Linked DNA regions of Homo sapiens: region 1 is linked to region 2. Evidence: fine-mapped expression QTL. A gene starts in region 2. The other region holds a variant in brackets. All regions are shown on one strand. Distances are from middle to middle.

Region 1 (2,907 bases), 62 kb before region 2:
AAGAGGGAGGATCTCTTGAGCTCATGTGGCTGCACTCCAGCCTGGGTGACAGAGCAAGACTTCACCTCTTAAAAAACCCCAAAAAGCAAACCAAAAAAAAAAGGGTGACTCTGAAAAACACAAGATACTTATTTGTTATTGGGAGTCACTTAAGCTGGAAATTGAAGCTCATTCATTTATTGCACAAGACTTTTCTGATCTCATGAGAAGTGCATGGGACTCTGAGTCAAAAGGCAACAAGAATTAAAAGCCTCAACTGACTCATGCTAGGGCCTCAGGCAAGTCACTTTGCCTTAATTTCCAAATCAGTGACCCAGGAAAAATGATTCTATTCTTATTTTTTGTTGTTGTTGTTTTTTGAGATGGAGTTTTACTCTGTCGCCCAGGCTGGAGTGCAGTGGCTCCATCTTGGCTCACTGCAACCTCCGCCCCCCCCGGGTTCAAGTGAGTCTCCTGCCTCAGTTTCCCAAGTAGCTGGGATTACAGATTCCTGCCACTGCACCTGGCTAATTTTTGTATTTTTAGTAGAGTTGGGGTTTCACCATCTTGGCCAGGCTGGTCTCGAGCTCTTGACCTCATGATCCACCTGCCTCAGCCTCCTAAAGTGCTGGGATTACAGGTGTGAGTCACCGCGCCCAGCCTGTTGTTTTCTGAGACAGAGTCTCGCTCTGTCACCCAGGCTGGAGCGCAGTGGCGTGTTCTCAGCTGACTGCAGCCTCTGCCTACTGTCATAGCATTTAGAATACAGTCCATACTCTTTTCTCTGGCTTCCAAGGCTGATCTGATCCAGCCTCCCTCCCTGACTCATCTCCTAACTCTCCGCTGGTGTGTGCCAGCCCCACCAACCTTAGTTTCTCAAGCATGCTGGTCTGTTCGCATCCGAGGGCCTCTAGCTATTCACCCAAATCTGCTCTCTCTGGCTGCGTGTGATGGCTCACGCCTGTAATCCCAGCACTTTGGGAGCCCAAGGTGGGACGATCACTTGAGCCCAGGAGTTCAAGACCAGCCTGGGCAACAAAGTGAGACCCCCCATCTCTACAAAAAATCCAAAAATTAGCCAGGCATGGTGATGTGTTCCTGTGATCCCAGCTACATGGGAGGTTGAGGCTGCAGTGAGCCATGTTTGCACCACTGCACTCCAACCTAGGCAACAGAGCAAGACCCTGTCTCAAAACAAAAGCCAAACAACAAAAAAACAAAATCTTCTCTCTCTTTACACAGTAATAGGGTTGTAGCCAGGCAGAGTGCT[G/A]CACTACATTTCCCAGCCTCCTTTGTGACACGCACAGCTATATGATCAAATCCTCTCAAATAGAACATGAACAGAGAAATGTGATCCATTCCTAGGCTGGGATTCTATGCAAATTTCCTCTTCCATGCTGTTTCTTCTTCTACCAGTGCAATGAAGCCAAGGGGATGTCAGACATATAAAATATAGACACCCTAGTTCCCTGAATCACTGCATGGAAGAGAGCTGTCCATCAACCTAGAACAGCTGCCTTGAGCTGTAGCATAGAAAGGGCTATGCTACAGTTTCTTTTTTTCTGATTAATTTTCTGATTAATTTCTTTTTTCTGATTAATTTTTAACTTAATTAAAATGCAGATAAAGTTTTTAGCTGGCCATGGAAGTTAAAGGACAAAAGACACTGGGTGCAGTGGCTCACGCTTGTAATCCCAGCACTTTGGGATGCCGAGGTGGGTGGATTGCCTGAGGTCAGGAGTTCAAGACCCCAGCCTGGGTGACAAAAAATAAAAAAGAGAGAACTAAGGACAGATGTAAGGTTGCTTCTCTTTACACCTGATGATACAGTTTGGATATTTGTTTCAAATCTCATGTCAAAATGTAATCCTTAGGCCAGGCACGGTGGCTCATTCCTATAATCCCAGCACTTTGGGAGGCCAAGGCAAGCAGATCACTTGAGGTCAGGAGTTCGAGACCAGCCTGGCCAACATGGTGAAACCCCATCTTTACTAACAATACAAAAATTAGCCAGGTGTGGTGCACGTGCTTTAATCCCAGCTACACCGGAGGCTGAGGCAGGAGAACCACTTGAACCCAGGAGGCGGAGGTTGCAGTGAGCTGAGATCGCGCCACTGCATTCCAGCCTGGGTGCAGAGCAAGACCTGTCTCAAAAAAAAGAAAATAAATAAATAAATAAAAGGAATCCTCAGTGTTGGAGGTGGGGCCTGATGGGAGGTGACTGGATCATGGGGGTGGAGTTCTCATGAATGGTTGAGCACCATCCTCTTGGTGCTGTCCTCAAAACAGTGAGTGAATTCTTGCAAGATGTAGTCATGTAAAAGTATGTGGCACCTCCCCACCACTCTCTCTCACTTCCTCTTGCTTTTGTCATGTGATAAGCCTGCTCCTGCTTCACCTTCTGCCATGAGTAAAAGCTCCCTGAGGCCTCCCCAGAAGCTGAGCAATGTTGGCCCATGCTTGTGCAGCCTGCAGAATCACGAGCCAATTAAACCTCTTTTCATTATAAATTACACAGTCTCACTGAGCACGGTGGCTCACACCTGTAATCCTAGCACTTTGGGAGGCCAAGGCGGGTGGATCACTTGAGGTCAGGCATTCGAGACCAGCATGGCCAACATGGTAAAACCCTGTATCTACTAAAAATACAAAAATTAGACAGGCGTGGTGGTGCATGCCTGTAGTCCCAGCTACTTGGGAGGCTGAGGCAGGAGACTCGCTTGAACCCAGGAGGTGGAGGTTTCAGTGAGCCAAGATCACACCACTGCACTCCAGCCTGGGTGACAGAGCAAGACTCCATCTCAACAAAATAAAAATAAATTACCCAGTCTCAGGTATTTCTTTATAGCAATGAAAGAATGGCCTAATACACCTGATTTGAGCCTTTCCATTCTAGGAAGATAATGGGTGAGGTACTAGAGGTACTAT
Region 2 (2,907 bases):
AAGAAAAAAAATTGAAGAGTTTATTTTCTCTATTTAAACAGTCCTTTCCTAGTTCTCCACATGAGGCATTCACTGACAGAACTGGTTCCTGAGCTTTTGTGGATTAACTTTTTAAATTCTTTCTGAACAGCTTTATGCCAAGGTTCTAAAGTTCACATTGTGTAAAGGAATCATACTTCTGAACAAAGTATTGACACGTGTTTACCATAAGACAGCAGAACAAGCTGCAGTTGGGCAATCGTTTTGTAAACTATTTCATAACTGCAGTAGAAAATCAAGATTTACTTGATGGAGACTTGGGAGACCTCTATAATTTTCTTAATGTTTAGACTATTTCCTCCAGGCTAAATTTATTAAGTCATGATCTAAGTGTTTTAGTGTAAAGTTTACAGCGTTAGTGTCACCGATTCTGTTTGATAAAGACTAGGGGCAGCCCCAAAGCATTTTGAGAATTACTTTGCTTAGTTAAAATATGAGAGGCTGAACTTCTTTCCAGCAAGCTGAGTAGGGAAATGAAACCACCAAACAGCACTGATACTAGGCCGTTTCCAAGCAAATATCCTTTTAAAGCATTGAGCTTTGAACTGACCCAAACTCTGAACTGTGACCTGAAAGAAAAAGGGCCTTCTGGCTTACTACCAGGGTAGAACCGAAACAAACAAACAGCTTGAGTTGAACCAATAGGTACTGTTTTTCAAAAGAATTTAACCAGAAACGCATGTGGTGGGTAAAGAGCATTTCCAAAGACCCCAAAATGAGGTAGTGCAAGTCTTAAACTTTTTCTTTCACCGGAAGTGCAAATCTGTGCATTTAAAGGTAAACTGCGTATATTTAAGCAGAAACCCTCTCCAGAAAAAAAAAAAAAAAAAAGCAGAGGAACATCTATCTACCACAGTGATCCAAACTGGTATTTCTGGTTTGCAGGATGTATGAATCCTAGCAAACCCAGGGCTGCTTCTGAGGTCCACAACGATATCCTACACTCGGGATTAGAAACAGGGAAGGGCCAAAGAGCCAAAGGTGGGGAGGGTTAGCGCTGCTCAACAGTCCACGCGCCCCTCACGCTGCAGTGGGTGCGTCTGCGGTCAGGTTCTCCGCTCCCTCTCCTCGTACCCCACCCCATGCTCGGAGTGTGTGAGGGCAGCTACTGATGCCAGCTCCCCAGCTCCTTTCCGGATGCGGGGGTGACCTGAGAATGGCTATCCTTGCTCCCCCCAGCCCCCAATTCTTCACCAGTAGCAAAGGGAGGGAGTGAGGCCCCGAGGCGGGGAGGGCTTAGCTCCGGGGCAGGCCCGGCTCGCTGCCCGGCGTACCTGGCTCTCGGCTGCGGGGATGCCAGACTCGAGCTCGCACAGCGCGCGGAAGTTGTGCAGCTCGAAGTCGGCGTCGACCTGGAGGGAAAAGGTCACCTCGGAGAGGTCCCTCCGCACACAGTACACGGTGAGCAGCATGGCCCGGGCCCGACCCGGCTCGGCTCGGCTCGGCCCGGCCTGGGCGCGGGGCGCAGGGGAAGAGGCGGCGGCGTGGCCTGGCTGGTGCTGCGGGAGGACGGCGCCGGCTGCTCGTTCGCTCGCTCGCTCCCTCCCTCACACACGCTCAGTGAGTCACTCCCTCCCGCCCTCACTAGCAAGCACGGCCGCCGCCACACGCCTGCGAGTCCGTCTGCCTGCCGGCCTGCCTCCCACGGCTGCCGCCAAGCGCGCCGGCCGCCCGGCGCCCCGCCCCGCCGCAACGCGGCTGCCGTAAAGCCCGCCTCGCCTTCCCCGCCTTCGCAACGCAGCGGGGGGCGGGGCCGGGAAGAGGAGGAGGAAGCCAGGAGAGGATAGGAGGGGGAGGAGTGGGAAGGGGGCGTGGAAGAGGAGAGGGAGGAAGGGCAAGAAAAGGGGAGGGAAGGAAAGGAACGCGGAGAAGGAAATCTCTGCTGACTGGTTGACTTAATGACAGAAGTCTGTGGAGGAGTCCCCGGTCTTATTTATTCACCGAACAGGCATTGATTAAGCGCCTACCATGTGTCGGGCGCTGGCGATGCAGAAATGAATAAAAGGATAAATCCTTCTCCGTAACTCTCAATCTAGTACAGGAGTTAGTAATAAAACATATTTTTCGAGGTAGAAATTGAGGCTCCGACAGAGTAATTCACTTCCTGTCTTAGTGATTTAGGATTGAAACCAAAATCATTACCCTCCCTAGTCTACAGAAGCCAGTTGGCTGTGGCCCACGCCTACCTCCCCAGCCCCTTCTTCCGAGCTCTTCCCACATTCTCTGCCCTCCCAGCCACATAGGTCAGTTCCTCCAAGGCTCCATTCCCCTGTCTTGTAAATAATTTTCTCTCTACTTGGACTGTGTCTGTTTCCTAGCCCTAGCAACTCCTACCACCTAGCGCAGTGCCTTTTTGGGCACAGCTTAGAATCTACTCAATAAATATTTGCTACTTTAATGGCCTGTTTTTAAGGCACACAGCTGATGAGTGGTAGAGGCCCAGAACTAAGGTGCGGATGAGTAAGAAAACCAAAACTGAAAGATGAACTTGTAATGGATGCCAGATTAGCATCTTTCCATTTACTCCCACTCCCCCTCCATGGTAGGGAGCCCTTTTCCATTTTAACAGGAGAGAAGGAGCAAATAAGATGGCTGTGGGTGCAGGTAAGTAGGTAGTAAGTAGGCTGTTGGTGGCAGGAAAGGGAGAATTAGCAGCTGAAGGCTTTTACAAAGAGAAATTAGAGGAGCTGGGCGCGGTGGCTCACGCCTGTAATCCCAGCACTTTGGGAGGCCAAGGCGGGCGGATCACAAGGTCAGGAGTTCGAGACCAGCTTGGCCAATATGGTGAAACCCCGTCTCTACTAAAAATACAAAAATTAGCCGGGCATGGTGGCGGACACCTATAGTCCCAGCTACTCGGGAGGCTGA

Which allele goes with the higher level. Alleles are on the strand shown, and positions count from the first base shown. SD is a standard deviation of normalised expression in the study named.
As copies of A replace G in region 1, the expression in monocytes after Pam3CSK4 of the gene that starts at base 1,664 in region 2 goes down (moderate effect, 0.60 SD a copy in Quach 2016).

Evidence for each region. PIP is the estimated chance that this variant, and not a neighbour inherited with it, causes the effect.
Region 1: its variant is the best candidate, but not a certain one, in a credible set for the expression of DDI2 in monocytes after Pam3CSK4 (Quach 2016, PIP 0.68).

The regions. Positions count from the first base shown.
Region 1 is chr1:15,678,163-15,681,069 of GRCh38, reverse strand. No RefSeq gene overlaps it. Among named protein-coding and RNA genes, the nearest start is that of PLEKHM2, 4.7 kb to the left of the region's middle. RefSeq lists an enhancer at 686-1,186 and a silencer at 1,889-2,436. The variant G/A (reference allele first, on the strand shown) is at 1,250.
Region 2 is chr1:15,616,215-15,619,121 of GRCh38, reverse strand. It overlaps DDI2 (DDI proteasomal shuttling factor 2), which reads right to left and starts at 1,664. Exons shown (of 10, transcript NM_032341.5): 1 at 1,314-1,664. The coding sequence starts at 1,451. RefSeq lists a silencer at 1,341-1,910.